Linked DNA regions of Homo sapiens. The protein of the gene in region 2 purifies or fractionates together with the protein of the main gene of each other region. This does not show direct contact. Each region holds a gene or a part of one and is shown on either strand. Other genes may lie near its edges.

Region 1 (3,500 bases), on a different chromosome or scaffold from region 2:
AACACCTTCACTGAGACCAACAACCACTGGCCCCAGGGACCCACTGGGCCTCCAGGCCCTCCAGGGCCCATGGGTAAGTTGAGTCCAGGCCAGGGGTAAAGGGTGAAGTTGGTAGATGGCAGAGGGAATAGGGTTTGTGGCTATCAGGAGGGAGCTGATGGGGCACTTCCTGAGATTGTACTTTGTTCCGGCCCTTAGGACATCCTGTCTTTTTCCAGGTCCCCCTGGGCCTCCTGGCCCCACAGGTGTCCCTGGGAGTCCTGGTCACATAGTGAGTAGTTCTCCTTGTACTCTCACCCATGTGTCTGTCCATCTTTCCATCTATGCATACATCCATACATCTGTCCATCATCCACCCTTGTATCCATCTATCCATCCATCCATTCATCCTTCCATTCATTCATTCAACAAGTATTTATTGAGCACTTAATATGCAAACTACCTTCCATAAATCTTATTCAATCCAAGTAATGAGAACCATGTGTGGTTATCACCTAAGACCAAGAAAAGTAGAGATTCTTGTGCCAGCACATGGCAATGAGCTGTGGTGGGACTGTCTGACTCCAGGATCAGATCTTTTAACACTGAGCTGTATGAACTGACTGCGGTGTGCTGGGTGTATGGTGAAGAACCCAGAGGCCCAGACCAAGCTTGAGCGCCCTCCCCAACACCTCTGTTCCCAAGCCCCTGCCCACTCCATCCTGCCCCAACACAAGGCTGAGGCCCTGTCTTGTTGCTCAGGGACCCCCAGGCCCCACTGGACCCAAAGGAATCTCTGGCCACCCAGGAGAGAAGGGCGAGAGAGTGAGTACCCAGGTGGCCCCAGGTGGGGGAATTCTGGGGAGTCCTGAGGGCCCCAGGTCAGAGTCCTCAACAGCTGACGCCATTCGTCTCCTCCCTCTTACACAGGGACTGCGTGGGGAGCCTGGCCCCCAAGGCTCTGCTGGGCAGCGGGTAAGTGTTGCTGTCTGTCCCGCATTCATCCCTGCAGGATCCCTTAGTCCCAGATTCCTCCTGTGACTCCATCCCCTGCAACCAGAGCTTCTAACCCTCCCTGTCTTGTCATTTATTTTCAGATGCTCCCTGTCTCTGAGACTCATTGTCCTCTTTGGATTAGGCTGCCTCTGTCTCTCTCACTCTGGCTCTCTGTTTCTCTGTATCTCTCTCTTTCCCTCTGTACGTCTGTCTCTTTGACTCTGTATTTCATTTACACTCTATCTCTCCAATTCTGATTGTAGATCTGTTCATTTCTCTCTTTAATTTGGTGAATTTTGCTTTACGTATTTTGAGTCTTTGTTATTAGGTGCATTCACATTTAGTATTTTAATGTCTCCTTGGTCATTTTATCTTTATGAAATTAATATCTTTATCTCTGATAATACTTGCCTTGAATCGACTTTGTGTGCTTTTAATAGCACACCAGCTTTCTTATGCTTGCTATTTGCATGTTATATCTTTTTTTATCCTTTTTTTTTTCAACCTGTAACTTTATATTTAAAGTGCATCATGGCTGGGTGTGGTGGCTCACACCTGTAATCCCAGCACTGTGGGAGGCCGAGGAAGGTGGATCGTTTGAGCTCAGGAGTTCAAGACCAGCTTGGGCAACATGACAAAACTCTGTCTTTATATAAAAATATGTATATAAATTTTATTAAATGTAAGAAAGTGTGGACCGGGCACGGTGGCTTACGCCTGTAATCCTAGCACTTTGGGGGGCTGAGACGGGTGGATCACCTGAGGTCAGAAGTTCAAGACCAGCCTGGTCAACATGGTGAAACCCCGTCTCTACTAAATATACAAAAATTAGCCAGGCATGGTGGTAGGCACCTGTAATCCCAGCTACTCGGGAGGCTGAGGCAGAAGAATTGCTTGAACCCAGGAGGCAGAGGTTGCAGTGAGCTGAGATCACACCATTGTGCTCCAGCCTGGGCAATAAGAGTGAGACTTCATCTCAAAAAAAAAAAAAAAAAAAAGTGCATCATATGACTTGGGTCTTGCTGTTTAAAAACAGTTTGACTGTTTAGTTAATTTATATTTAATGATATGTATAATTGATTAATATGGTTCTGTTTAGCCATCTTGCTGTTTATGTTCTATTTATTCCTTCTGTTTTGTGTTTCTTTTTTCCCTTTTCTTTTCTTGTCTTCTTTTGGATTGAGTACTTTTTATGATTTCTTTTTTCTTTTTTAGAGACAGGGTTTCCCTATGTGCCTAGGCTGAACTCAAACTCCTGGGCACATAGTGAATGAAGTGTCTTAAGTGATCTTCTTGCCTCAGCCTCCCAAGTATCTGGGACTACAGGTGTGCACCATTGTGCCTGACTTAAAATCTTCTCTTTCTAAAATTAATTTTCTTTCTAGAATTAAAGCTTTCTAGAATTTAAGCTTTTTTTTTTTTTTTTTTTTTTTTTTTGATACAGGGTCTTTCTCTGTCACCCAGGTTGGAGTGCAGTGGTGCAATCATAGCTCACTGTAGCCCCAACCTCCCTGGCTCAGGCAATCCTCACACCTCAGCCTCCTGAGTAGCTGGGACCACAGGCATGTACCACCATGCCCAGTTAACTTCTATTCCTTTACATTTAATCTGTTTTGTGGTTATATTTAAAGTCAGTTTCTTATAGAAAACCTACGGTTAGGTCTTATTTTTTGGTCCATTCTAACAATCCTCATCTTTTATTTGCTGCATTTAGGCCATTGACATTTAAAGTGATTATTGAGGCCCAGCATAGTGGCCCACACCTGTAATTCCAGCACTTCAGGAGGCCAAGGCAGGAGGATCACTTGAAATCAGGAGTTTGAGACTAGAGTGGGCAACAAAATGAGACCCTTTTTCTATAAAACAAATTTAAAAATTGGCTGGACGTGGTAGTGTGCACCTGTAGATTCAGCTACCTGAGAGGCTGAGCTGGGAGGATTGCTTGAGCCCAGGAGTTTAAGGTGACAGTTATAATTGCTTTACTGCATTCCAGCCTGAGTGACAGAACCAGACCTTGCCTCTAAAACATAACTAAATAGTCTGTGCACGGTGGCTCACACCTGTAATCCTGGCACTTTGGGAGGTGGAGGCAGGGGGATCACCTGAGGTCAGGAGTTTGAGACCAGCCTGGCCAACATGGTGAAACCCCGTCTCTACTAAAAACACAAAAATTAGCCAGGTATGGTGGCGCACTCCTGTAATCCCAGCTACTCAGGAGGCTGAGGCAGGAGAATTGCTTGAACCTGGGAGGCGGAGGTTGCAGTGGGCCAAGATTGTGCCACTGCACTCCAGCCTGGGCGACAGAGTGAGACTCCATCTCAAAAAAATAAGTCAATCAGTAAAATAAAAAATAACTAAATAAATGAAGTGTTATTTATATAGTTGGGTTAACAGCTACCATATTACTATTTTCTTTCTTTTTTTTCTTTTTTTTTTTATTTTTTGAGGCAGAGTCTTGCTCTGTCGCCCAGGCTGGAGTCTAGTGGCTGGATCTCGGCTCACTACAAGCTCCGCCTCCCGGGATC
Region 2 (4,226 bases):
AAACAATAGAGCTGAGAAAAATAAGCCCAGAACCTCTGATTCTTTCTCCCATAAACCTCAAGGCCCCTTGGCAGGGCTGTTTGGTTAACCCTGAAGTCACCTCTGTAAAGCTCGCAGTTAAATGCAAAGCTGCAGAGTTTAACCCTTGAATGGACCAATATGTTCTCATTACTCCTACACCACTGAAAGCTCTCAGGTCCTCCTAATGTCCCCATGTTACAGGCAAGGAAAGCTCAGACAGAAGTCACACAGCTAGGATGTGATGAAGTTGGAGCTGAGATGATACCTGTATTAGCATGACTCCAACACAGTAAGGGTGCCTCACCGCCATCCTTCCCAACATCCTGCCCCCCTACTGCCAATACTTTGATATGTGCCCAGGGCCCTTTGCTTTCCGTCTCTGGAACTAAGCTTAGTCATCTGTGAAATAGGGAGGCAAAATGGACCAAAAGAATGCTAAGCTTCCCCAGCTCTGAAAGTCTAACAGATCCAATCACATCAAATATCCTTTCTGAAGCTAATTTCCAGATGCTTCAAAAAAACAGGCTGGGTGCAGTGGCTTACGCCTGTAATCCCAGCACTTTGGGAGGCCAAGGTGGGAGGATCACTTGAGGCCAGGAGTTCAAGACTAGCCTGGACAACATGGCAAAACCCTATCTCTACTAAAAATACAAAAAATTAGCTGGGCCCTGGTGGTGCATGCCTGTAATCCCAGCTACTTGGGAGGCTGAGAATTGCTTGAACCCGGAAGGCAGAGGTTGCAGTGAGCCAAGATTGCACTACTGCACTCCAGCCTAGGTGACAGAGGGAGACCCTGTCTCAAAAAAAAAAAAAAAAAAAAAAAAAAAAAAAAGTTTCCTGCACTGACATCTTCAGCTCCATTTCTTTATCAAACAAGACCTCAGCCGTGTTCCTAAGCTTCTTTTTGTTTTTTGTTTTTGTTTGCTTGTTTTTTGTTTTGAGACAAGGTCTCACTCTGTTGCCCAGGCTGGAGTGCAGTGGTACAATCTCGGCTCACTGCAACCCCCACCTCTTAGGCTCAAGCGATTCTCCTGCCTCAGCCTCCAGAGTGGCTGGGACTACAGGTGTGTGCCACCATGTCCAGCTAATTTCTCTATTTTTTATACAGACAGGGTTTTGCCATGTTGGCCAGGCTGGCCTCGAACGCCTGAGGTAGGTGGTCCACCCACCTCTGCCTCCCAAAGTGCTGGAACTACAGGCATGAGCTACCACGCCTGGCTGAGAGTACGTTTTCTGAAGTACAAATCTGATCCTGTCACTCCCTGCATTAAACACTTGAGTAACTTTTCATTCCCTTCCAGATAAACAGCAGACTCCATAACAAGGTTTAGAGGCCCTTTGCAACTAGGCTGCTACTTCACCCCTCGCAATCAACTACCAGAACTGCCTGCTGCTCCCCACTCCTCCAATCCAGAGCTGGGCAAGCCCCCTCACCTCCAGAAGCTCACTCACTTGGCCATCCGCACTCCTTTCTCTGACCCCACTCATCCTTCAGATGAATTCCTCTGGGAGTCCTTCGGGGTGGGTTGTCTCACTGTGATCCCAGAAAGTCCTACACTACTATACTTCCACTGGCCTGGCAGTTCTTCCCTTGCAATTCCCTGTTTCTTCATTGACTGTGAGGTTCCTGGCCAAGTGCTGTGTTTCATGCCTGTAATCCCAGCACTTTGGGAGGCTGAGGTAGGAGGATTGCCTGAGCCTAAGAGTTTGAGACCAGCCTGGGTCTCACCAACATGGCGAGACCCCATCTCTATTTTAACAAACAAACAAACAAACAAAAACTCTGTGAGGCTCCTAAGGGAGGGGAATATCCTCTGATTTACAGGAGCATCTAGTATTCTGTTCAAGGCCAATCTTGCCCTACCTGGCATCATGCACAGTGCCTTACACTTCCCCAGTAATTCATTCAGGCATTTATGGAACACCTAGGGTGGTCCTGGCACTAGGCATGTGGCTTTGTCAATAGCCAACAACAATGACGTGATCATGGCCCTATTAGAGAGAGCCACGCTGCCCTGCTGCTGGATCTGCTTTCTCTTCCTCCAGGTCTTCAGGATGACTCTCAGTGCAGGAGAGAACCCGAATGTTCTGCTCCCAGAGTGCACGCAGCCTTTTCCCCATCCTCCTCCCCAACTCCCCTCACCCAAGCTGGGGACCAGGCAGGCAAGCAGAGGGATTTGGGACCCAGCCAGAGGGCAGGGGCAGGCTGAAGACCCAGCCAAGGGGCAGGGGCAGGCTGGAGAGGGCTGCAGGTGAGGGAAAGATCCTCTGGCCGAGCTGGTTGGATGGGCTTCTCCCACCGGGAGCAAGGGAGAAGGTGGGGCAGAGGAGGAGTCGTGGGCTAGGACAAGCCGGTGGGGAAGAGACAAGGGAAAGGAACTAAAGACCCAATGTAGAGGGAGGAAGCAAAAGGGCAAAGAGGAAAGGCTGGACAGAGCCAAACCAGAAAGGGACACCGAGGCGCGAAAGGAGAGTGATCCCAGCAGGAGGGACGGCAAAGATTGAAGAGAGCGACCAGCCCGAGGTGAAGGGGGACAGCGCGCCAGAAGCAGGGGGCTCGGGCGTCTGGGAGGGACGGGCAGGAGAAACTGGAAGGGAGGGAAGAGGCGGAGGGAAGAGGCGGAGGACAGAGGCGCGGGGACGCAGCTAGCCTCGCACTTACCGTTGGCCGCCTGGGCCGGGGGGACTGGGGCAGAGGGGTCTGGCTCGTCATCCTGCCCACTGGCCGCTCCACTGCGCAGCCCTGCCACATGCAGATCACTTGGGCCAGCGGAAGTGCCCCTGGCTGCCCGCCCCTAGGTGGGAACACCGAGGCTCAAGGCGGGACGGGGCTGAGCCAGGCGTGGCTTGCAGTGAGACTGGGCCAAGTGCAGAAAGAAATGGACAGTCTGTCTATTTGGGGCTTCTAAAAGTTGTTAGGCCCTGAGAAGGGCTGACTTTGGAGACCGAGAAATGGAGCAGACCCCTTAAGGACTGACCTTTTGATATAGATTAATTTCCTTCCTTTTCTTTCTTTCTTTCTTTTTTTTTTTTCAGAGACAGGGTCTCACTCTATCGCTCAGGCTGAAGTGCAGTGGCGGATCAGGCTCACTGCAACCTCAACCTCCTGGGCTCAAGTGATCCTCCCACCTCAGCCTCCCAAAGTGGTGGGATTACAGGCCTGAGCCACGGCAACTTGCCTCTTCCTATATTTTCTTTTACGCTTAAATAAATTACTTAAACATATTGCTTGAATCCCGTTATTAAAGTTGACATTAGTTAATGCCCCTCTCTGGGCCTCGGAGTTCCCAGTAGTGAAATGGGGGAGGCAGAAGGAATTGACATTGACTGACATTGACAACCAGAGACTTTCTATTCCCTACAGTCCTAGGGAGTGAAAGATCCGCAACACCCATTTTACAGATCAGAAAACTGGCGCTCTAGGAGGTAGGGTGGTGTTAAAATGTAAAGTCTGAGGATCAACAAAACTTTTTTAAGAGTATACTTGAGTAACAGGCAATTCTTGAATCGGGGAACACCAGATGGAAAGAGGTTGAGTGTTCCCATGACAATGCATCAGAGGCAAATATTTATGGGGAGAATATGGAAGCAAGATATTTTGTTGGGGACAGGCATGGTGGCTCACGCCTGTAATCCTAGCACTTTGGGAGGCCAAAGCGGACAGATCATTTGAGGTCAGAAGTTCGAGACCAGCCTGACCAAAATGGTGAAACCCCGTCTCTACTGAAAATACAAAAATTAGCTGGGTGTGATGGCATGTGCCTGTAATCCCAGATACTGTGGACGCTGAGGCAGGAGAATCGCTGGAACCCGGGAGGCAGAGATTGTAGTGAGCTAAGATTGCACCACTGAACTCCAGCCTGGGCAACAAAGATTCCCTCTCAAAAAAAAAAAAAAAAAATATATATATATATACACACACACACACACACACACACACACACACACATATATATATATATACATATATATATATAAAATTGGTTACAGTTAAAAAATCTCCTTTTTTGGTTTCCTTTGTTGAAAAGTCCACAGCTACTTAATTGTATGTTAGTTGGCTGCTTGTGGTTGGCTAATGTTAAGTTTCGTTTCTGTCTAACATTAGCATTTACCAGAAATGACTCTATTAGTCAGGGTTCTACAGAGGGACAGAACTAACGGAATAGGGTTGGACACGGTTGCTCACGCCTGTAATCTCAGCACTT
Region 3 (4,138 bases), on a different chromosome or scaffold from region 2:
AATTCTGACACCAGATCAAGCCTGTCCCAGTGGCAGAGGGTTGGACTTGCTTTTTCTGCATGATACCTAGCAGGGTGGCAACCAGAGGCACTAGAAGTTTGGGTTTGTTCTCCCACGCTCTGTGTTACAAACTTCCCCCAGATCCAGCTCCTTCCTCCCAGGAAAACCATCCTCGGGCTCCTGAAGTGCCCTTTCCTGAGCTTTCCAAGGACACAACTGCTGCCCCAGCAATCATCACAAGAGAGGAAGATGGGCATGGAAAATAATACACTTACAAAAAAACTGTGCAAGGTTCTGCAGATAATTTTTTTTTTTTTTTGAGACAGTCTCACTCTGCTGCCCAGGCTGGAGTGCAGTGGCGCAATCTCAGCTCACTGCAGTCGCCACCTCCCAGGCTCAAGAGATTCTCCTGCCTCAGCCTCCCGAGTAACTGGGATTACAGGCACCTGCCACCACTCCCGGCTAATTTTTGTATTTTTAGGAGAGACAGGGTTTCACCATGTTGGTCAGGCTGGTCTTGAACTCCTGACCTCGTGATCTGCCTACCTCGGCCTCCCAAAGTGCTGGGATTACAGGCGTGAGCCATCACACCAGGACGGTTCTGCAGATAATTTGTACTACTGTTTGCCAGTACATGTCTTTGTGTTATTAGTATTCATTTTAGGGGAAAAACCCTCAAATTTCAGCCAACTGGACTTTGTGTTTGGCTTTAAATGTTTTCCGCCACTGTCCATCCAACAGTCTCGCTTCATATTCGTATCCTGGTTCCCAAGTCCCTTCGAGGAGAGATTCTCAAATGCGGTCCGTTTAAAATCACCCAAGAAATACAAAAATTAGACAGGCATGATGGCGGGCGCCTGTAGTCCCAGCTAATTGGGAGGTTGAGGCAGGAGAATCACTTGAACCCGGGAGGCGGAGGTTGCGGTGAGCCGAGATCACACCACTGCACTCTAGTCTGGGCGACAGAGCGAGACTCCATCTCAAAATAATAATAATAATAAGAAAAAGTAACAACAATAATAATAATAATAAAATCACCCAGGAGCTCAGCGTGCAGACCCCCAGCCGCAAAGCCCAGAGAGCCCCTTTTGGGAGGACGGGGCGAGGCCCAGCAATCCGCGTTGGGAGTGGTCCCGCGCGCCGTTCTGATCTGGGCAGCCCTGGGCTAGCGGAGACCACGGCGCCTTGCCTCGGCCACGGCTCACGAGACGCCCGCGGCCCCGACCCCGCCACGACGGGACGGGCGGGACAGGGGAACACGCGCGCCCGGAACCCGCCGCCACGGCGCCGCGCCGGGGGGACGCGCTTGGGCGACGGACGCGCCGCGCCGGGGAAGCTGTTGGGCGCCGGAACTGGTCCGGCCCGACTCACGACCCCGCGGGACCCGGCCGGAACCCGGCCCGACCCCGGCGCGCGCGCGGCGGAGGACGAGGAAGAGTTGTGGCGAGGCAGATCCTGCCCCGTGGCCGCGGCCGTCTCGTAGGTGCGGGCGGCGGGGCCCACGGGACCGCGGCGGGGTCGGCCGGGCGCAGAGCTCTCGGGGGCGCGGGCTCCGGCGCCCGCCCCTGGGTCGCAGCTGGGCTTGAGCCGTGGCCCGTGGCGCGGTCGCTTCCCCGCGAGCCGCCTGGGGCCGGGCGTCGGCCTTCCCGGGACGCCGAGCCTCTCGTGTCCGGTGGGGAGCGGGGCCCCCGCGCGGGGTGCGGGGAGAGAAGCTGTGCGGACGCCGGGCCCGGTGATACCGTCGAGCCGGCGGGGTCCGTGTTCAGGCATCCTCAGAACGAATCGTCTTTGGTTGTGTTTGGAATAAATTCACTTCCATTTCTCATTGGGCTTCAGAAGTCACCCTTGAAGTACTCCCCGTTTTAGTTGTTTGCTGCGTGCACCTTGCTGGGCGCGTGGGGCACAGGTTCACAGCCGGCCTAGCCCCTGAGGGCATGTAGATCTATGAGCAAGCAATGGAGACGTGCGGCCGGCCGTGAAGTATTTGGAAGGTACTGCAGGCAGCCCATTCCCTGGAGAGAGGGAAGGTTTAAAGGGGTGAGGCCCGGTGCAGTCAGGAGTTGATGTTGCTGTCCTGAGTCTAAATTCCACCAGGCAGGCCAGGTGCAGTGGCTCATGCCTGTAATCCCAGCGCTTTGGGCAGCAGAGGCAGGAGGATCACTTGTGGCCAGGAGTTCAAAGCCAGCCTGGGCAACATGGTGAGACCCCTATCTCTACAAAAAAATGTAAAAATTAGCTGGGTGTGGTGGCGTACACCTGCACTTCCAGCTACTGGTTAGGCTGAGGCACGAGGATTTCTTGAGCCCAGGAATCGGAGGCTGCAGTGAGCCATGACAGCACCATTGCACTCCAGCCTAGGTGGCAGAGCAAGACACTGTCTCAATAAATAATAAAACTGAAAAAGAAGAGGTGATATTTGAACTGGGCTTGGAAGAATGATTAGGAATTTGCTAGAAAGGGAACACGTTTAGAGATAGGAACACGAATTGTGTCTGGGGCATAGTTGTTGCTTTCCCATCCTGGGAGGACAGACATTCGTGTTAGGGCCCAAGGCTGAGACCTTGTTGAGGAGGGGGTTCACATGGTGGACCCAGGAGCACGGGTGTTACTACCGGTGGACCCTGGGGACCCTGCGAGCTTTGTAGCGTGAAGCCTGGCTCAGGCTGGTGTCCTCTCCGCAGGTGTTGGAGGACATAAGATGAGGCTTCCCTTGCTCTTGCTCCTTTGGCTCTGAACCATCTCCTCAAGGCAGACAGAAATGGCGGATTAAACTGTGGGCTTGGGATAGTTGTAAGTGTCACCTTTCCAGATGGCATTTTTAAAATAGTATTTTTCTTCCTAAAATGGATATGGGTTTCAAGTGTATTTTTCCTTTTTGGTTTTTTTTATTTGAATGTACTGCTCATGAATGCAATGTGAATGTCTGTTACTTAAAAATGTAATTTTGAAAATAACCCTCCAAACCACAGGTGTGATGCTGAAACGCATCCTGCCCCGCAGGCCGAGCACAGCCCTCCTCTGCCCCACGCTCTCATCGGGGCAGCCGACAGGAGGAAGTGCCGGCATCCACTTCAAACACAAGGTCTGGGGGGGCGGGGGTGTCAGGTGTGGTGGTGAACAGGTCAGGTGTCGTTTTATTCATGTTGAAAGCAGCCCTTCATTTGAATGCGAGTGTCATTCTCATCTAGTAATTTTTGTTGCGAGGCTCCATGGGGAGCACCCTGCTGAGCACGGCGCGGCCGTTTGTCTTCTGCCTGGCCTGTGCCGGGCCATTCGTACATTCTCACGTGAAGCCTGTGAGGCAGGTCTTGTTACTGTGCCATCTTAGCGGTGGGAAGTGAAGGGCTAGGCCAGTGAGGAAATGAGGACAAAGGCAGCAGCCGTTCAAGTCGAAGCCTGTGGTGACTAACTCTGCCATTAACCAGCACTCCAGTTAGGAGGGAAAAGATGCATCCCGCTGCGCTGCATGTGTGTTCCCGAGAAGCCCCAGTGCCTTAGTGGTCTGATCTCAGAACCTGATGGCTAGAACACCGAGAGGTCCTGCCTCCCTCCCCGAGGGCTGGAGAGCCACTGTTTTCAGTGGTTCCAGTACGCCTTCACCAAGGAGGCTGTCCTGGCTCAGGCACCTTTCTCAGCTTCTGACTAGAGTCCTTGCCCAGCCACGTGGTGACGCCGCTGACCTCGGGTTATCAGGGTGCTGCGTAGCAGGGGTATGAAGCTGGCTGAGGGTGGAAGCCCCTGACTGAACTGCATTTGTCTGGTGGGCAGTGTCCCTCCACACTGTGCTCCTGGTGGTGATGGGGAGCCCCACGGTAGAAGGGGTCCCAGTGGTTGAAAGGTGAGGTTCTCTCTGAGGAAGCTGGGGTGCCTCTGGACCGGGAGGTGTGCAGGAAGACCGCGCACAGCCATCTGCCCTGAGTAGGCTCTGTCTGCGTGTTCGAGGCAGGGCTCTGATCCGATGACCGTGAAGATTCAACCTCTGTGCTGAAGAGAACTGATGACTGGGCACTTCATTGTCCCAAGCCTGAGGGACTGAAAAGCTGGTTTGATGGGGCTGGTTCCGTTTTCCACATGCTTGGTGGGAGAATAAATCAGCACCTCGTTGGAGGGGACTTTGTCAGTATTTCTCAAAATTAAA
Region 4 (2,403 bases), on a different chromosome or scaffold from region 2:
TTCTTTCCAGCCTGACTTTATGACTTCTCTGTTTTCAAGAATACGTAGCAAATGAGGCTGGTCACCAAGGTGTGTCTGCCTAGGCCTCTATGAGCATGTTATCTGCTTGTCTTTGAGTTTCTGTTCGTTTTACGCCGGCTTTTCAATGCAGGATTTCATTGACCTGCTTTTGAAAAATTCCCTCAGTGCTGTGTTACTAGCTCTTCTGGGCCCCAGGTGAGAACCTTAAACAAGTAATGTCTTTCTTGGTCTTGCCACAGCTTCTGGAAAACATGACAGAAGTGGTTCGGAAAGGCATTCAGGAAGCTCAAGTGGAGCTGCAGAAGGCAAGTGAAGAACGGCTTCTGGAAGAGGTGAGGCCCCCGATGGGCAGCAGGCTGGGGGAGCCGCCGTGAGGCCAGGTGGCCCTGAACTCTGGTCCTGTCTTGCAGGGGGTGTTGCGGCAGATCCCTGTAGTGGGCTCCGTGCTGAATTGGTTTTCTCCGGTCCAGGCTTTACAGAAGGGAAGAACTTTTAACTTGACAGCAGGTAGGACGGCATAGCCTCTTCCCAGGTCTTGCTGACCTTGGGAGGTTTCACCAAATGCCCTTGGGTCCCAACACTTCCCACTGAGAATCCCGCCCTGGTTCCCGTTCTTCATCACTGGGTGTGGGCCGGACATCTGAGGAGACAAGTTCTGGTGTGCCCTGTCCTCCTCCCCACCGCACCCTGGCGGCTGAAACAGCAAGGAAGCAGCTACCCACTCTCCACAGCTGTCACCACCGCAAGGCCATGAGGACACGCCCACTCAGCCGTGCAGACTCTCAGGGTGCTGTGTCTTGGGCATTTTGGTTCAGGGTTAATACTTCTTGTCTTCATGTGTGTTCTGCCCCAGCAGAGGACAGCTTTTGCAAGTGGCAATGCAGAGACTGAAGCATGGAGTGCTGGCACGGTTTATTTTGAACCAGGCAGCCAGCAAGCGTTTCAGCCGCTGGAATGTGGGGAGGGTGTTAACAGTCCGTGACTCCTTTCCTGTTCTACCAAGGAAATAATTTCCTACACTCGAGCCCCTTCCTTCATTCTTTCCCAGGAAACGATGACTCCATTGTCATGAAAGCAAAAGATAATCTGATTTCTAATCTGCCAAGCCTTAGCCTTCAGCAAAAAGGCACCCACTTCTTGTGGCTACAGTACGTTTCCCTGTTGGGCCTGGCTCCCTGGGTGTGCTTACGCCATACTGCTGGCGGATGCTGGCGGTACTGGCCCTGTGAGGTGGCTTTCTCTAGCTCACGGCACATTCATAAGTGCCCTTCTCTCCACCAGTCTGTGGCAGGCTCAGTGGCTGGAAGGAGGTTATTGGGGAGCAAGGCTGTGTGAGGGCAGGTGGTGTCTTCAAGGGCAGCCTGTGCCTGTAGCTTCTACCCAGCCCTCTCCTCTCCCGCAGGCTCTCTGGAGTCCACAGAACCCATATATGTCTACAAAGCACAAGGTGCAGGAGTCACGCTGCCTCCAACGCCCTCGGGCAGTCGCACCAAGCAGAGGCTTCCAGGTAAGTGACGCCTCTGCACCGAGTTCAGGTAACAGGTTTCCCCTGTTGACTGTTACTTGCGTTTGTTTTCTGGGTTCTTGAACTCCAGAGGTCTATTTCTCTTAAGACCAACTACTACCATCTCTTTAACCATCTTGGTAGCCGTGGGATTCAGCCTTGAAGAAATCCCACGGTAGTGCGCTAAGGGGAAGTTGGGGTCTTGAAAGATGACATTGTCACTGTGGTGTTTACCCTCCTGGGCGTTTCCTAATGAAGATGACCTTAGAGTTCCCCGGCCTGGGGAGCATGTTGGTGTCAAGCTAGCAGCTCTCGGTTTTCTCATCTCCTAAAACACCTCAGAGCCAGTAAAGGTTTCTGCTGAAGCTGTGTTGTGAAATAAAGCAATTATCTGTTGCAGAGACAGCCTGTGTTGCAGAAGTATCCTCACTGAGTTTCAGCGCAGTCTGTCTGCCCTTTCTGTAGGCCAGAAGCCTTTTAAAAGGTCCCTGCGAGGTTCAGATGCTTTGAGTGAGACCAGCTCAGTCAGTCACATTGAAGACTTAGAAAAGGTGGAGCGCCTATCCAGTGGGCCGGAGCAGATCACCCTCGAGGCCAGCAGCACTGAGGGACACCCAGGGGCTCCCAGCCCTCAGCACACCGACCAGACCGAGGCCTTCCAGAAAGGGGTCCCACACCCAGAAGATGACCACTCACAGGTAGAAGGACCGGAGAGCTTAAGATGAGACTCATTGTGTGGTTTGAGACTGTACTGAGTATTGTTTCAGGGAAGATGAAGTTCTATTGGAAATGTGAACTGTGCCACATACTAATATAAATTACTGTTGTTTGTGCTTCACTGGGATTTTGGCACAAATATGTGCCTGAAAGGTAGGCTT
Region 5 (3,500 bases), on a different chromosome or scaffold from region 2:
AAAATAGTTTTTCAAGAATGTCTTTCTTTTTTTTTTTTTTTTTTTTTTTTTCTGAGACAGTGTCTCTCTCTCTCGCCCAGGCTGGAGTGCGATGGCACGATCTCGACTCATTGCAGCCTCCACCTCCCGGGTTCAAGCGATTCTCCTGTCTCAGCCTCCCGAGTAGCTGGGATTACAGGCGCACGTATTTTAGTAGGGACGGGATTTCACTGTGTTGCCCAGGCTGGTCTCGAACTCCTGAGCTCAGGCAGTCTACCCTCAGCCTCCGGAAGTGCTAGGATTACAGGCGTTAGCCACCGTGCCTGGCCTTTTTTTTTTTTCTTTTTTTTTTCAGAGACAGTGTCTCACTCCTTCATCCAGACTGGAGTACAGTGGTGCAATCTCAGCTCACTGCAACCTCTGCCTCTCAGGTTCAAGTAATTCTTGTGCCTCAGCCTCCTGAGTAGCTGTGATTACAGGCATGCACCACTGCACCTGGCGAATATTTGTATTTTAGTAGAGACAGGGGTTTCACTATGTTGGCCAGGCTAGTCTCGAACTCCTGACTTCAAGTGATCTGCCTGCCTCGGCCTCCCAAAGTGCTGGAATTACTACAGGTGTGAGCCCCCACGCCCAGCCAAGAATGTCTTAAAATACTCCCTTTAAGTGTGATTTTGTTGGGAGGGCAGCCCTGTTCCTGCATTTTGGAATTGCTGTACTTACATTTTTGCTTTCTCTAAAGCAGAGTGTGGTTCCCATGTTAAAAAACAAAAGGAAACAAAAAAAGGTAACATGCTTGGAAATGACTTTTGTGGTAGTTACTTTATATGTAAAAATCTAGAAGGTGCCTAATCTTAAACTGAGTAAGGCATTTACTTAGAATTAAAGATAATTTACCCAGCCTGGGCAACATGGCAAGACCTCGTTTCTACAAAAAATAAAAAAACTAGGCCAGGCGCAGTGGCTCACGCCTGTAATCCCGGCACTTTGGGAGGCTGAGGCGGGTGGATCACCTGAGGTCAGGAGTTAGAGACCAGCCTGGCCAATATGGTAAAACCCCATCTCTATTAAAAATACAAAATCAGCTGGGTGTGGTGGCCTGCATCTGTAATCCCAGCTACTTGGGAGGCTGAGGTAGGAGAATTGCTTGAACCTGGGAGGCAGAGGTTGTAGTGAGCCAAGATCGTGCCATTGCACTCCAGCCTGGGCAAAAAAGAGCGAAACTCCATCTCAAAAAAAATAAAAATAAAAAATTAGCTGAGTGTGATGGCATGCACCTGTGGCCCCAGCTACTCAGGAGGCAGAGACGCAAAGGTGGGAGAATTGCTAGAGCCCAGAAGGTGGAAGGTTGAGGCTGCAGTGAAAAGAAAATTTACTACAAAGTTTAAGATTTAAAGTCAGTGGTCTCCCTTTTTCCTGCATCCTCCAATTGAAGTTCAGTTTTTACTTTCTTAGTTGCAAAAATTAGAGACAGGAAACAATGAAACAAGCTTGTGATCTGAAGAATTTGACTTGTATCTAGTAGCTTCAGCATGTTCACGGGTCATAGGAGGTTATGGTCCCAGTGAAAGTTACATTCTTGGCCAGAAAAATCCCTTCAGGAGGTTCTTTTTCCCACATTGGATTGTTCACCCCAAACAGCTGTGAATTCTGGTTTGCAAAAGGAAGTCCAGGCTATTTCTGCCCTAGTCTTTCATAGGGAAAGTAAATTACTGGGTTTTTAGCCCAGAAACACTAAGGAAACCCCAGAAGTAGACAGTGGAGAGTTTGTTCTTAGAAAAATCAGGCTCTCCTGTGGGTAGGAACTTGGTCTCTTTTTTGGAGAGCTCTCAGAAAATATTTCCCACACTGATTTCCAAAGGATTATTGGGAGATTTTCTGTGGTAGAGAAAATTATATCGTATAATATGTTACATTCATAGAACATCTTCACATAACTTTGGTGTGGTTAGAGTTAATGGTAGTAATACTGGAAATTATATGGTATGTCTTCATATTTATCCTTTCTCAGTAATTTGTAGATCAAGTTTGTTTAGTTTACAAATCAAAAAAGAGTTTTTAAAACAAGTCAGTTGTCTCTGCTTTGAAACAAGATAGTTGTATCTGTTTGTGATATTATTACCACTGATCCAGGAAGCAGAACTGCCTCCTGGCCTACTTAAGTGGTGAGGACATACTATGGTGGCTAAGGATCAGGTTCTGACCCAACTCTGCCTTGTGACTTAGGCAAATTAAGTCACTTTTCTGCGCCTCTGTGTCTTCATATATATAATGGGCCTGGGATGGTGCCTATCTTCTAAAGCAGCATTAAATGAGCTAAAGGATGTAAGGCATATAATGCCTGGCACATGGCAAGGGTTTGGTAACCCTCAGCTGCTAGAATCATCTAATGGGAGCCAGGTGCTTGCCACCCTTGATGAATCAGAGTGAGGACCCTGTTAAGGACATATCTTTTATTGATGTTGCCATTTTAACATTTATAATAATTCACAGCAGAAGCTCCCAACCTTTTAAACTATGAAGAGTCCCATAGTTTTAAAAAGCCTGAAAATTGGCAATGGTGGCAAAGTTACAAAGCAATCCAGGTCCACAATCCTTTGTTTGAAACCTTGGGGCCAGATATGTTTTCAGGGTGCTGACTCAATATTGTATATTGAGTCCCTAGTGGGACTGTGGCAGCACCCTGGAAACATTGTATTTCTACAGCAAAACCTGTAAATATTGACTAAATGGGATAAATATGAAGCCGCTTCATATCAGCGTAGGTCAGGTTTTGCAGCTAAATGACTGCTGCTAACTTATGAAAATATATTTTCAGAGCTTTTTGGATTTCTGAATTGTTGATAAGGGACTGTAAACCTCTGCCTTTATGGTAGAAAAATTGCAAGACAAAGAAATGCACTAAGAAGAAAATAAAATCAGTTATAATTTTACCACCTACAGAAATTAACTTGAAATTTTGGTGTACAATCTTGTTTTTTTCTGTGCAAACTTTTTTTTTTAACAGAAATGACATTATTTTGTATATACTTTGTCTCATGTTTTCACGAACTATATTGTGAAAACACTTTCCTATATTTTCTGTCCTCCTCAACCTCATTTTAAATGGATGTGATATCCGTGGTATATATGAATTGTAATTAATTTAACCCCTTTCCTGACATGGAACATGAGTTTGTTTTTCGTTTTTTGCTATTAGAACAGCTCTGTGATGAACATGCATGTGGATAAGTTTGTGTGTACATTCTGCTTATAACATTTGATATATTCAATAGAATGGTAGGTGTAGTTTCAACATTCAGCCATTGCAGAAATCAACAGCTGAATATTCAAATTGCACCTCAAAATCAACAAGAAACATACATGTTGTTGAATTTGAGGACTCATAGTAATTCTGAGGCCCCTTACATCTCCTGGGTCCTTCTGACTGGGAAGTAATATACTGATTTATGGTTGCTAAATACTACTTATATTCAGAAAGTAACCTTTGTGCAAGCCCAGGACTTTTTAATGGTTAACTT
Region 6 (3,500 bases), on a different chromosome or scaffold from region 2:
TCACAAGTTTATAGTATATTGAAAATTCTTGCAGGTTTTAATGCTGACACTGCAGAACGATCCTCCTTCTTTGGAAACTGGTGTTCAAGATAAAGAAATGCTGAAAAAATATGGAAAATCATTTAGAAAAATGATTTCATTGTGCCTTCAAAAAGATCCAGAAAAAAGGTAAAATATGAGAAAAAGTCTACTTTTCTCTCTAATAAAACATTGTGAGAAGTCTAAGAATCACATACTCATATGTACAGGAAATTATTTTCAAAAGAACTAAATATAAACTTTAAAAAAGTATACAGAGACCATTATACTGGATTGGAAATGAATTGATTTCTGCCTTCTTTGTAGTATACAGTGTACCCTAAATAGTTCAGCTTTTTCCTTGTTAATTTCTTACAAAGTTGTACATTGTGAATTCTGTATTAATAAATGCCAAGTTAGTGGAGAGATTTGTTTTTAATTTGCATTTAAAATTTATAAATGAATGTCTTAATGCCATTTACAGTATTAATAAAGGAAAGACACATAGAAAATTTATATTTAGTGTAATAATCATACTTATTTCCATGTTAGAAAGATATTTTAGTAAGTGGACCAAAAATTCAAATAGCTTCCTTATCAATGTTAGACAGATTGAATGACAAGTGAGCAAATAAATAAGAACATCCGATATGTGTAACTTCATGAATTAAGCAGAATCGTAGAATGTTGGGGATCATTGAGTACAACCTTTTATTTTTGAGGTCACTTGATACTTAGTCATAGGAGTAGGACTTGAATCTCAAAGTCCTGATTCCTAACTTAGGGCTCTGTTCCTTCTGAATCTTATCTGTCTGTTTCACATATATATTCCACTCAGCTTCTTAGCACTGAGTTCTTTAATTTTTGTTTCTCTAAAGATCATTAAAAGGGAAAGACTTTGATGTTCTTGATCACATCTCTAGTGTATGTAATAGGGTTTCAGAATTTATTGTTGGAAATATTGGAAAGGGTAAGAAAAACAGGTAGCAAAATTTATACCTGTGTTTTTATAATTTTTTTTTTTCTGTTTCTGAGTAAACAGTTAAAAAAGACAGGAAACACTTTTCTTTTATCAAATTAGTTGGTTAAAGGAACAAAATTATCCTGTTACAAATACCTAGAAATGCCAGATAAAATCTATCCAACTTAAAGATTCTCAGATGCCAGAAATAATGAGGAAGCCCTAAGTTAAAGAAGAAATATTGTGAACTAATCCCATGGCTGTTTTCAGTGGGTCACTATTCATTCTGGTAACCTACTGATTTGGATTTATAACTCCCATGTGAAAACTGGAAGTGAGATCTTGGGTCCACCCAGTGGGGAGTTTGAACTGAGATTCTTCTTAAAGCTAAGAACTTCAGATGTCAGTATCCTTAGTAAAAGGATAGACAAGAATAAAAATTGTCATCACCAAGAGACAACAAAAACCTCTCCTGAATAATCAAGCCCTTCAACCTGGACATTCCACAGGTTTAGAGTCTATACTCCCTATGTTATCCAGGAACCCACAGGATTAGAAAGTTAAAAAAGCTTTACCAAATCAGTTTTTATTTTTGACGGAAGTAGTCACAGAGCTGCACTGGAAGAACACTTTCAAACTCTAGCTCCCATTGGATTCCTGAACATAATGCCCCACTGTAATAAGGTCACAATCCAAAATTAAGAAACACACAGTGAAACAATGCATTATGAACTAGTTAGCAGACACAAGCAGAAGGATTAGTGCTCCAGAAGATTTAGGTAATGCAGTGAAAATCTGAAAAGATACAAAATTAAGTATATTGAAAATAATTAAAATTAGAAGAAATCAGACCCACAAGAGAAGACTGTGACTATGACAGAAGAACCAAATAGCAATGCCAGAAATGAAAAATACAGTGATTAATGTTTAAAACTTTCCATGAGTGTGAGCTGGACTTGTTGACTCACTTCTGATGAGTAGAGTATGAAAAAGGAAAAATAGCAACTTTACAATGCACCTCCTCTACCCAATGACCAAGGTTAACATCACTATTAATAATACATTGATAAGACTGATATGTGCCTCTTGATATGGTGCAATGAGAAGGGCATATATATAACCTGTGAGGTATTCTTCCTCCAAATCCGTAACTTCGGTCTATAATGAGAAAACATCAGACAAACCCAAATCGAGGAATATGCAGCAAGATACCTGACCAGCACTCTTCAAAACTGTCAAGGAAGAGAGACTAAGAAACTGTCACAGATTGGAGGAAATTAAGAAGACGTGAAGACGGAAAGCAAGAGTATCCTATACTAGATCCTGGGACAGAAAAAGGACATTAGTGGAAAAACTGGAGAAATGGAATGAAGTCTGTAGTTTAGTTAATAGTATTGTACCAGTGTTGATATTTTAGTTGATTTCTTTATTATTATACTGTGGTTATGTAAAAGGTTCACAATAGCAGAAGGTGGTGAATGGCATGTAGGAACTCTGTACTAGCTTTGCAGCTCTTCTGTAAGTCTAAAATTATTATAAAACTTTAAGAAAACTGGAAGCTATAGAAAATCTATTCCAGTTTGTAAACCAAAATTAAACTTTGTTTAGAACATTGCTAAGTTAAAATAACACGCACAATGGACTGGTTAAACAGAACAACCAATAAAACAAAAAAGAGATTATTTACTCATCAAGTACCAGGCACTGTGGTAAACACTTAACATATATTGTTTAATTCTCACAGTAATCCTTTGAGGATAGCACTGTTATTTTCTTTATTTTACAAATGAAGAAACTGAATCACAGAGAGGTTAAGTAACCTTCTCCAAAGTCACACAGCTAATAAATGGTGGAATCAGAATTCTGACCCATGCAATTGGACTAGAGTTAACCTGTTTTAATCAGACTACACTATACTGAGGAAATTGCTCAGAATGTGGCACAGAAAGATCAAAGAGGGAATATGAAAGAAATATTAACATTTGGAGGGTAGACTGAGAAGGTTCAGTATGTTTGTGTGTATGCACATCCACACACACACACACACACACACACACACACACACACACACAAATGTACGTATACATATACATGAACTTACCAGGAAAGACTAGAGAGAGTATAGGAGAAGCGATATTCAAAGAAATAATGGCTGAGAATTTTCGAGAGTTGATGAAAGACCTATATTCTCAGAGTAAAGAACCATCCCCCCAGAATTCCAAGCAGTGTCCCCCTTCTTCCACTTGTACAAGTTGCTGTGAAACTACTGGACACGAAGCAAAGACAAACTCCTACAGGCAACCTCGGGGAACAGATTACCTACTGAGGATTAGCAGGTAGACTTGACAGCTACTTCCCCAATAACACAACAGTTGAGGCCAGCGTTTAGTGAAATGCTCAGAGAAAATGCAGTCATGTGTCACTTAAAATGATGAGGATACATTCTGTAATATGTGTATTAGGCAGTTTTGTCATTGTTTGAACATCGTGGAGTGTACTTACACAAACTTTGATGGTACAG
Region 7 (3,500 bases), on a different chromosome or scaffold from region 2:
CACCACGATCAAAAGGAACAAGTATCAAGCACGCAGCAACGCAGCTCAAAACGCTTAGCCTAGCCACACCCCCACGGGAGACAGCAGTGATAAACCTTTAGCAATAAACGAAAGTTTAACTAAGCTATACTAACCCTAGGGTTCGTCAAGTTCGTGCCAGCCACCGCGGTCACACGATTAACCCAAGTCAATAGAAACCGGCGTAAAGAGTGTTTTAGATCAATTCCCCTCAATAAAGCTAAAATTCACCTGAGTTGTAAAAAACTCCAGTTGATACAAAATAAACTACGAAAGTGGCTTTAACGCATCTGAACACACAATAGCTAAGACCCAAACTGGGATTAGATACCCCACTATGCTTAGCCCTAAACTTCAACAGTTAAATTAACAAAACTGCTCGCCAGAACACTACGAGCCACAGCTTAAAACTCAAAGGACCTGGCGGTGCTTCATATCCCTCTAGAGGAGCCTGTTCTGTAATCGATAAACCCCGATCAACCTCACCACCTCTTGCTCAGCCTATATACCGCCATCTTCAGCAAACCCTGACGAAGGCTGCAAAGTAAGCGCAAGTACCCACGTAAAGATGTTAGGTCAAGGTGTAGCCCATGAGCTGGCAAGAAATGGGCTACATTTTCTACTTCAGAAAACTACGATAACCCTTATGAAATTTAAGGGTCGAAGGTGGATTTAGCAGTAAACTAAGAGTAGAGTGCGTAGTTGAACAGGGCCCTGAAGCGCGTACACACCGCCCGTCACCCTCCTCAAGTATACTTCAAAGGACATTTAACTAAAACCCCTGCGCATTTATATAGAGGAGATAAGTCGTAACATGGTAAGTGTACTGGAAAGTGCACTTGGACGAACCAGAGTGTAGCTTAACATAAAGCACCCAACTTACACTTAGGAGATTTCAACTCAACTTGACCACTCTGAGCTAAACCTAGCCCCAAACCCATTCCACCTTACTACCAAACAACCTTAACCAAACCATTTACTCAAATAAAGTATAGGCGATAGAAATTGTAAACCGGCGCAATAGATATAGTACCGCAAGGGAAAGATGAAAAATTATAACCAAGCATAATATAGCAAGGACTAACCCCTGTACCTTCTGCATAATGAATTAACTAGAAATAACTTTGCAAAGAGAACCAAAGCTAAGACCCCCGAAACCAGACGAGCTACCTAAGAACAGCTAAAAGAGCATACCCGTCTATGTAGCAAAATAGTGGGAAGATTCATAGGTAGAGGCGACAAACCTACCGAGTCTGGTGATAGCTGGTTGTCCAAGATAGAATCTTAGTTCAACTTTAAATTTACCCACAGAACCCTCCAAATCCCCCTGTAAATTTAACTGTTAGTCCAAAGAGGAACAGCTCTTTGGACACTAGGAAAAAACCTTGTAAAGAGAGTAAAAAATTTAATACCCATAGTAGGCCTAAAAGCAGCCACCAATTAAGAAAGCGTTCAAGCTCAACACCTATCATCCGAAAAATCCCAAACATATGACTGAACTCCTTGCACCCAATTGGACCAATCTATTACCTTATAGAAGAACTAACGTTGGTATAAGTAACATGAAAGCATTCTCCTCCACATAAGCCTACATCAGACCAAAATATTAAACTGACAATTAACAGCCTAATATCTACAACCAACCAACAAGCCATTATTACCCCCACTGTTAACCCAACACAGGCATGCCCACAAGGAAAGGTTAAAAAAAGTAAAAGGAACTCGGCAAACCTTACCCCACCTGTTTACCAAAAACATCACCTCTAGCATTATCAGTATTAGAGGCACCCCTGCCCGGTGACATATGTTTAACGGCCGCGGTACCCTAACCGTGCAAAGGTAGCATAATCACTTGTTCCTTAAATAGGGACTTGTATGAATGGCTCCACGAGGGTTCAGCTGTCTCTTACTTTCAACCAGTGAAATTGACCTGCCCGTGAAGAGACTTTTAAGTTCAGTTTTTTAAAGGAGATCCACTAAATGTCAGGATGTCCATCATATCTATGCACATAGATAAGTCCTCAATGTCATCTGTGAGTTCTTGGAAACTGTGACTTTAAGTGAAACAATGTAGAGCAAAACCAATTTTACCATAGGCTACTGGATGTACACAAGAGTTAAGTTCCTAGGGCATATTGCTGGTCACAAAAACATCACCAAACTTCTAAATGAAGGCCAAAAACACTTCTAATAGAAAACACTGAAGTAAATATGAGCTATACATACATTTAAGAAGAATAATGTGCATGTCTTTGGGATGTGGAAGGAAACTGGAATACCTGGAGAAACCCCATGCAGACATGGGAAAAGCATGCAGACTCCACACAGACGGTGGCCCTGGCCAGGAATTGATTATTTTTCTCATCAACGTTAGAAGAAAACGATGTTATTCAAGGACATGTTGTATATAAATACATGAAAATATATGTATATTCCCAAAATATACTTAGGCTTTCTTTGTGATTTTATAGGTAAACAGAATCTGGTGATTATGGGTAAGAAGACCTGGTTCTCCATTCCTGAGAAGAATCGACCTTTAAAGGGTAGAATTAATTTAGTTCTCAGCAGAGAACTCAAGTAAGTACCTTAACATAAATTCACCACAAGAAAATCATGTCTCATAGTGGAGATCAGTATATGATAAAATGAAATTGTATAAAAGGAGCTATTGATGAAGCTGCTTAATATCACAAAGGTGATTATAGAAAATTAATAAGCAGTTATTTATACTACATGACAATAACTTATTCTACTACCTGAGTAATTGATTTCATCACCTTGAAAAGTTACATTAAACATTAAATAGCTCACTGTGGTATCAGATTTGCAAGTTATCTTGAACCATCATTCAGTAGGCCCAAATATAAATTATACAGTGTAATCAATAACCTGTAGTTTCACATAAAGTCAAAACAACTATTTTTTGGGACTTGCTAAAATTAAGTGATGATCCCCTTTCTGGACCCAACCCTAAATGCAATAAAATGTGAATTTTAGGATGGGCTGAAATGGGTCATAATCTTCTACTCTGTTATTCCTAGTTAACCACAATACCCAATAATATTTTGTACTTAACATTCATTACCCAGTGTCTGAAGGTAAAACATTTCAAAGTATTGAAATGGTTCTAGAGATCCTGGAGAGAAGCGGGTATCTCCAGTTAGCCTCTGCTAAGAATTTTCCTGTCCTCCAACCCAGGGTTGGAGTCAGTAGTTCATGAAGCCTGGATATGCCCTGGTGACTGGAGAGTGGGAGGGGTAATCATATTAAGACTGCCCAGGAAGTCAACTCCAATGGCTTGGGAGGTTGAGGGGTGGCCAGAATTGGACCTGTGTTAATCCATTCTCATGTTCTTATAAAGAACTGCCCAAGACTGGGCAATTTGTACAGGAAAGAGGTTTAATTGACTCACAGTTCCTCATGGCTGGGGAGGCCACAGGAAATTTAAAATCATGGTGGAAGGGGAAGCAAACGCATCCTTC

The links.
Region 1: the proteins of KCTD14 (region 2) and EMID1 purify together in Homo sapiens (co-immunoprecipitation; one large-scale study listed by IntAct). This does not show direct contact.
Region 3: the proteins of KCTD14 (region 2) and ACSF3 purify together in Homo sapiens (affinity purification with mass spectrometry; 3 studies listed by BioGRID and IntAct, with this or other methods). This does not show direct contact.
Region 4: the proteins of KCTD14 (region 2) and PDXDC1 purify together in Homo sapiens (affinity purification with mass spectrometry; one large-scale study listed by BioGRID and IntAct). This does not show direct contact.
Region 5: the proteins of KCTD14 (region 2) and ANKS1A purify together in Homo sapiens (affinity purification with mass spectrometry; one large-scale study listed by BioGRID and IntAct). This does not show direct contact.
Region 6: the proteins of KCTD14 (region 2) and OXSR1 purify together in Homo sapiens (affinity purification with mass spectrometry; one large-scale study listed by BioGRID and IntAct). This does not show direct contact.
Region 7: the proteins of KCTD14 (region 2) and DHFR purify together in Homo sapiens (affinity purification with mass spectrometry; one large-scale study listed by BioGRID and IntAct). This does not show direct contact.

The regions. Positions count from the first base shown.
Region 1 is NC_000022.11:29,233,396-29,236,895, forward strand, and holds part of EMID1 (EMI domain-containing protein 1 isoform 1 precursor), read left to right. Parts: coding exon 1-73; intron 74-218; coding exon 219-271; intron 272-741; coding exon 742-804; intron 805-909; coding exon 910-954; intron 955-3,500.
Region 2 is NC_000011.10:78,020,477-78,024,702, forward strand, and holds the start of KCTD14 (BTB/POZ domain-containing protein KCTD14), read right to left. Parts: upstream 2,801-4,226; 5' UTR 2,774-2,800; coding exon 2,684-2,773; intron 2,546-2,683; exon of another isoform or gene 2,067-2,545; intron 1-2,066.
Region 3 is NC_000016.10:89,092,514-89,096,651, forward strand, and holds the start of ACSF3 (malonate--CoA ligase ACSF3, mitochondrial isoform 1 precursor), read left to right. Parts: upstream 1-1,338; 5' UTR 1,339-1,483; intron 1,484-4,138. UniProt on the Homo sapiens protein: Catalyzes the initial reaction in intramitochondrial fatty acid synthesis, by activating malonate and methylmalonate, but not acetate, into their respective CoA thioester. May have some preference toward very-long-chain substrates.
Region 4 is NC_000016.10:15,034,026-15,036,428, forward strand, and holds part of PDXDC1 (pyridoxal-dependent decarboxylase domain-containing protein 1), read left to right. Parts: intron 1-260; coding exon 261-353; intron 354-431; coding exon 432-528; intron 529-1,423; coding exon 1,424-1,528; intron 1,529-1,925; coding exon of another isoform or gene 1,926-1,990; coding exon 1,991-2,250; 3' UTR 2,251-2,403.
Region 5 is NC_000006.12:34,895,755-34,899,254, forward strand, and holds part of ANKS1A (ankyrin repeat and SAM domain-containing protein 1A), read left to right. Parts: intron 1-3,500. UniProt on the Homo sapiens protein: Regulator of different signaling pathways. Regulates EPHA8 receptor tyrosine kinase signaling to control cell migration and neurite retraction.
Region 6 is NC_000003.12:38,224,537-38,228,036, forward strand, and holds part of OXSR1 (serine/threonine-protein kinase OSR1), read left to right. Parts: intron 1-34; coding exon 35-168; intron 169-3,500. UniProt on the Homo sapiens protein: Effector serine/threonine-protein kinase component of the WNK-SPAK/OSR1 kinase cascade, which is involved in various processes, such as ion transport, response to hypertonic stress and blood pressure.
Region 7 is NC_000005.10:80,648,484-80,651,983, reverse strand, and holds part of DHFR (dihydrofolate reductase), read left to right. Parts: intron 1-2,489; coding exon 2,490-2,595; intron 2,596-3,500.